Regions from separate parts of the Homo sapiens genome. Here region 2 is linked to region 1. Evidence: fine-mapped expression QTL. Tissue or cell type: whole blood. Region 1 holds a variant in brackets; the other region holds the start of a gene. All regions are shown on one strand. Distances are between the middles of the regions.

Evidence for each region. PIP is the estimated chance that this variant, and not a neighbour inherited with it, causes the effect.
Region 2: ARID5A starts here. The variant in region 1 is fine-mapped to the expression of ARID5A in whole blood (TOPMed, PIP 0.99).

Annotation. Positions count from the first base shown.
Region 1 is chr2:96,639,268-96,641,947 of GRCh38, reverse strand. No RefSeq gene overlaps it. Among named protein-coding and RNA genes, the nearest start is that of FER1L5, 2.2 kb to the left of the region's middle. The variant A/G (reference allele first, on the strand shown) is at 1,470.
Region 2 is chr2:96,535,188-96,537,867 of GRCh38, reverse strand. It overlaps ARID5A (AT-rich interaction domain 5A), which reads right to left and starts at 1,116. Exons shown (of 7, transcript NM_212481.3): 1 at 1,038-1,116. The coding sequence starts at 1,041. RefSeq lists silencers at 1-157, 838-1,197.

The sequences.
Region 1 (2,680 bases):
GTGGCTGTCTTTATGGCTGTCTGAGCCTCTGTGCATTAAGATGGAGCTGGGGCACCTATTCTTATTGTCCACAGCAAGGCTTTTTAGGCTTTAGGGTTGAACATCGTATAAATTACATCTTATCCAATAGTTAGAATGAAAACTAATGAATATTTAAATGCTGGGATTGGTGGCTCATGCCTGTAATCCCAGCACTTTGGGAGGCCAAGGTGGACGGATCACTTGAGGCCAGAAGTTCGGGAACAGCCTGGCCAACATAGCAAAACCCCATCTCTACTAAAAATACAAAAATTAGCTGGGCGTGGTGGCACGTGCCAGCAATCCCAGCTACTTGGGAGGCTGAGGCAGGGGAATCGCTTGAACCTGGGAGGTGGAGGTCACAGTGAGCCAAGATTGCACCACTGCACTCCAACCTTGGCAACACAGCGAGACTCTGTCTCAAAAAAAAAAAAAAAAAGGCCGGGCGTGGTGGCTTACGCCTGTAGCCTGTAATCCCAGATCTTTGGGAGGTTAAGGCGGCCGGATCACGAGATCAGGAGATCAAGATCATCTTGGCCAACATGGTGAAACCCCGTCCCTACTAAAATACAAAAAATTAGCCGGGCATGGTATTGCGCGCCTGTAGTCCCAGCTACTCCGGAGCTGAGGCAGGGGAATCGCTTGAACCTGGGAGGCGGAGGTTGCAGTGAGCCGAGATCACGCCACTGCACACAAGCCTGGCCACAGAGCAAGACTGTCTCAAAAAAAAAAAAAAAAAAAAAAAAAACAATGTTTAAGAACAATCTATTAGTTAATGAAACAACTACTTAGCAGTAAGCGTACCACGCAGTCTAAGAGATGAATGGATTCAAAGACTGAAACGCTGGGTCAGTGATCAGGGTGCTGATTGCTTTCTAGTGCAGCAGATTAAAAAAAAAAGTGCTTCTTGGAAGTTTTTCTTGAAATCTAAACACAACACAGTGCTTTTCGCTTTGTGAATGGCTTTTCAAAGTAAGCGTGACACAAAAGACCCTGTAAGTGAAAAGCTGACAGATTTGACTGTATTAAATAAAAAATTCCTATGTAGAAATTATGCCTTAAAGCTAGAAGACAAATATCAAAGCAGGGAAAACATTTTCAATATACTTAATGTCCAACAGTTTATTTAATAAATGTTTATAGAGCAAGCTCTTAATAAGAAAAGGATGACTATCCCAAAGGAAAACAAAGGCAAAGCTCCTATCAGATAATTGCCCAAAATGACAAAAAAAAATTTTTTTTAAAAAACCCTCAGTCTTGTTAATAATCAAAGAAATACAATGAAATACAATTTATGACTTTGCCAAATTGGTTTCAAAAGCCAAAAAAGATGTAAAAAAAAAAAATCAAACTCACTGGGCACGGTGGCTCACGCCTGTAATCCCAGCACTTTGGGAGGCCAAGGCGGGCGGATCACGAGGTCAGGAGATCGAGACCATCCGGGCTAACAC[A/G]GTGAAACCCCGTCTCTACTAAAAATACAAAAAATTATCCGAGCATGGTGGCACACGCCTGTGGTCTCAGCTACTCGGGAGGCTGAGGCAGGAGAATCGCTTGAACCAGGGAGGTGGAGGTTGCAGTGAGCCGAGATCACGCTACTGCACTCCAGCCTGGGCGACAGAGAGAGACTCTGTCTCAAAAAAACAAAAACAAAACAAAACAAAAAACTCATTAATAAGCAAATAAATGGGATAAGATACCATTTATCACCTCTTAAATTGGCAAAGAATGAAACAAAATGATAAACGTGGTGTGCTGAGGAAAGGAAGGGGCAGAGAAAAGATACAAATCTGTTTTTAGTGGGAATGGGAATATAAGTAGAGAAATAGCAGAACCCTGGCCCCAAACAAGCGCCCAGGAGACAAAGTTAAGGGTAGGGAGAGGTGGGGCAGGGGCTGCTCTATTTGTGATAATTTCTATGGCCTTAAGCTCCATATTTCTAAACAGCACTTTTAAATAGCATTCCTTGATTTTTTCAAATCTATGAGGCATTTTCCCAGTTTTATTGTTTTCCCCGGGGCTCTCCCTCCTGGTCTTCTCTTCTCCCCCAGCTGAGACTAGTGGTCCCCAGTCCTGCAGCATAGCTATTGTCCTGGGATACTCTTTGCCATCACCTTCAGAATTCCTCGTCTGCTTCTTGTGTTAGACCCTGCTTCCCCGATCCTATGCCTTCCGTCTTCTCAGTTTACCCTCTCATCTTTGTGGAACACAGCTTTGAGTGGCTTTCTGAATGTTTCGAGTGTTTGCATGTCTGTACCTATCTTTTTTTTTTTTTTGAGACAGAGTCTTGCTGTGTCGCCCAGGCTGGAGTGCAATGGCGCGATTTTGGCTCACCGCAACCTCTGCCTCCTGAGTTTGAGAGATTCTCCCACCTCAGCCTCCCGAGTAGCCGGGATTACAGGCATGCGCCACCACACCTGGCTAATTTTTGTATTTTTAGTAGAGACAGGATTTCGCTATGTTGGCCAGGCTGGTTTTGTACTCCTGAACTCGTGATCCACCCTCCTCAGCCTCCCAAAGTGCTGGGATTACAGGCGTGAGCCACCGCACCCGGCCATTTCTTTTTTTAAATAGAAACGAAGTCTCACTGTTTTGTGCAGGCTAGTCTTGAACTCTTGGGCTCAAGCAATCTTCCCACCTTGGCCTCCCAAAGTACTGGGATTAT
Region 2 (2,680 bases), 100 kb after region 1:
AGGGACACTGGACCCGCAGCGCCTTGGGACCCCCTGGGCCCTCGGGGGTCCTGCACCGCGCAAGCCCCACCACGCCGGCGCTGGGCGGAGGGTGACGCGACCCCAGCCCGGGCGACCCCTAGACACCGCGGAGGGACGGAGCGCGGGCCCGGGTTGGCCCGCAGCTCCCGCCGAGCGCGAAGCCGGGCATCGCCTGCAAGCTCGTAGCCCACGCTCTTGCCCTCTTCCCCTGACGCTCCCCAGCCGCCACCCCGTCCCTTCTGCAGACCGAGGGAAGACAAGGGGACACACAAGGGACAGGAGAGGAGAGCAACCAGGGAAGCGACCCCTCTCCTGTGGGGCTGCGGCGGGTGGGCGGAGAGACAGGAGAGGAAAAGAGAAAAGGGAAGAGAAGGAAGGGGCAGGGGGCGAGAAGCCGGGCTCCCCGGACCATCGGCGCAGCCCGCGGCCGAAAGAGGAACAGTGGATCCTACAAAGCGCATTGAGCAAGTTCTTCACACCCGCGCAGCCCCTTTCAGGAAACGGCGGCCGCAGAGGAAAGGGCCGCGCGCTCTGGACCCGGAGTCTGTGCCCGGCGGCGCCGCGGTTCTGAAACCTGCGGGATGTCACGGGGCGGAGGGGCGGCTGCCGACAGCTGTCACAACAAATTAGCTGAGCCCAGCTCGAGGTGGAAACCGCAGCAGGAAGTGGGACGACAGAGCCGTACCGGGCTCGGCATATTTCAGGCAAGAGACGGCGAAAAGAGTTTCGAGATAAACGCCCGGGAAGCCCCTGGCCGCCAAAACTTTTTGTCTTTCCTTTTCTCGAAGCTCGCGCGGACGCCCAGCCTCACCCCTTCCGCGCCGGCCGGGGAGCGCTGAAGCCGCGGGCCGGGCTCGCTCCCCTTGGCCCGCGCCCCGAAACCCACCCCGGGCCCCTCTCCGCCCCACACAGCGCACCGACTGCCACGAGGGCTGGAGGGGACCCGGCGCCGGCACCTTGAACCTCCCTGCAGGGCCGCCGAGCCCCTGTCCGGGCCGCGCCGCAGAGCCGCTTACCCATGGCCCGGAGAGGTCCCGCGGCGCCCGCCCCGAGACCCTCAGCGCGCGGCTGTCCGGACCCCGCGCTCTCTGAGATACTGGCTCGCGGCGCGGCCCGCCGGCCACCTCCCCGCAGTCCCGCCCCGTCCCGCCCCTGCTCGCCCCACTCCGGGCTCCCATTGGTAAGCCCGGCTTCGTCGCGCGGAGAAGGCGGGGGGCGGGGACCGCCCTTGAGTCCGGGGACCTCTGGGAATTGTAGTGCGCGCCCCTCGCCTCTAGGCTTTCAGACTGGAGCCCCTGGAATAGGCTCCTCACCTAGAGGAGCGGAGGCAGGACCCTCAGTAATCATTGCTGCCTTGTGCCTCAGTTTCCCTGGAGGCAAAACTAGAGCCTTGGAAAAAGCCTCCTTGCTTTCAGCAGAGCACTGAGGACTCTGTGGAGCGAGCAAAGTGCTTCTGACTTTGATTTGAAAGTGGCCCTGTGCATTTCCCAGTCCCCACCTAGCCCAACAAAGAAGGCCAGGTGAGGCCGGGAGCGGCGGCTCACGCCTGGAATCCCTGCTTTGGGAGGCGGAGGCGGGAGGATCACTTGAGCCCAGAAGGTCGAGGCTGCAGTGTGTTTTGATCACACCACTGCACTCTATCCTGGATCCTGGGCAATAGACGGAGACCCTGCCTCAAAAAAAAAAAAAAAAAAAAAAAAAAAAAAAAAAAGGAGAGGTGGTTAGTGTGAGCTAGACAAGGACCAAACTAGTAAATCCTTGGCCTAGGCTCTGTGGCCAGGCCTGCCAGTAATAGTCAATGTCCACACACATAATGCAGACAGAGTGTGGCAGCTACAAGCTGAGTAGTCCAAAGAAGGGGCATGAGTTCAGGCTGTGGGAGGTGGGAATGAGGCCTAGGGCGAATGGAGGCAGGAGGAGGTGCCCAGCCAGCCATAGCAGCAACCTGGACCTGTGCAGGCCAAAGAGGAAGAAATGGAGGCTCAGGGTTTCAGTCTCAGCAGGTGGCTAGCTAGGATGGGAACCCTGTTCCTAGCACATAGAAGCTACACAAAAATCTTTGTTGATGAATTTTAATACTCATAATAGCTCTATGCACTTGACACCATCATTGTCCTCATTTTATAGCGTAAAACTGAGGTCTGAGAGATTAGCTCAAGTAGCACAGCTGGTAGGTGTTGGAGCCAGAGCTAGACCCAGGAAGAGGAGCCCTCATACCCAGGCATCCCCCCACCCGCTTTGCACCCATTACTAACCACTCATCATACTGGTGCCCCTCCTCACACTAAACGAAGGGACCAGGGCTGCAGTTTGGTGAACCTGAAACCCTGGCCCTTACCCTTTGGCCCTGGGATGGAAGATGTCTGCAGGCTCAGTCTAGAGCAGACGACCCTGTGGGCTCTGCAGGATAAATCCCCTGTCTACCTCATAATGGGTTGGCTTGTAAGAGCCAGCACCTGTAGAATTGGTAATAGACACCCAGAACAATCATAATGGTAATTATAACAATGCATCCCACTTTGGCAAGTTTACAAGCCACTTTCCCCTCCAGGAAAGCTAAGGCTGTGGTGGAAGACACTATGATGGGATGCCATCAGGAAGCACCTTTGTACATTCTGGAAGCATTGATTGGCAGGCACTATGCCCAAGGTTGGGGATG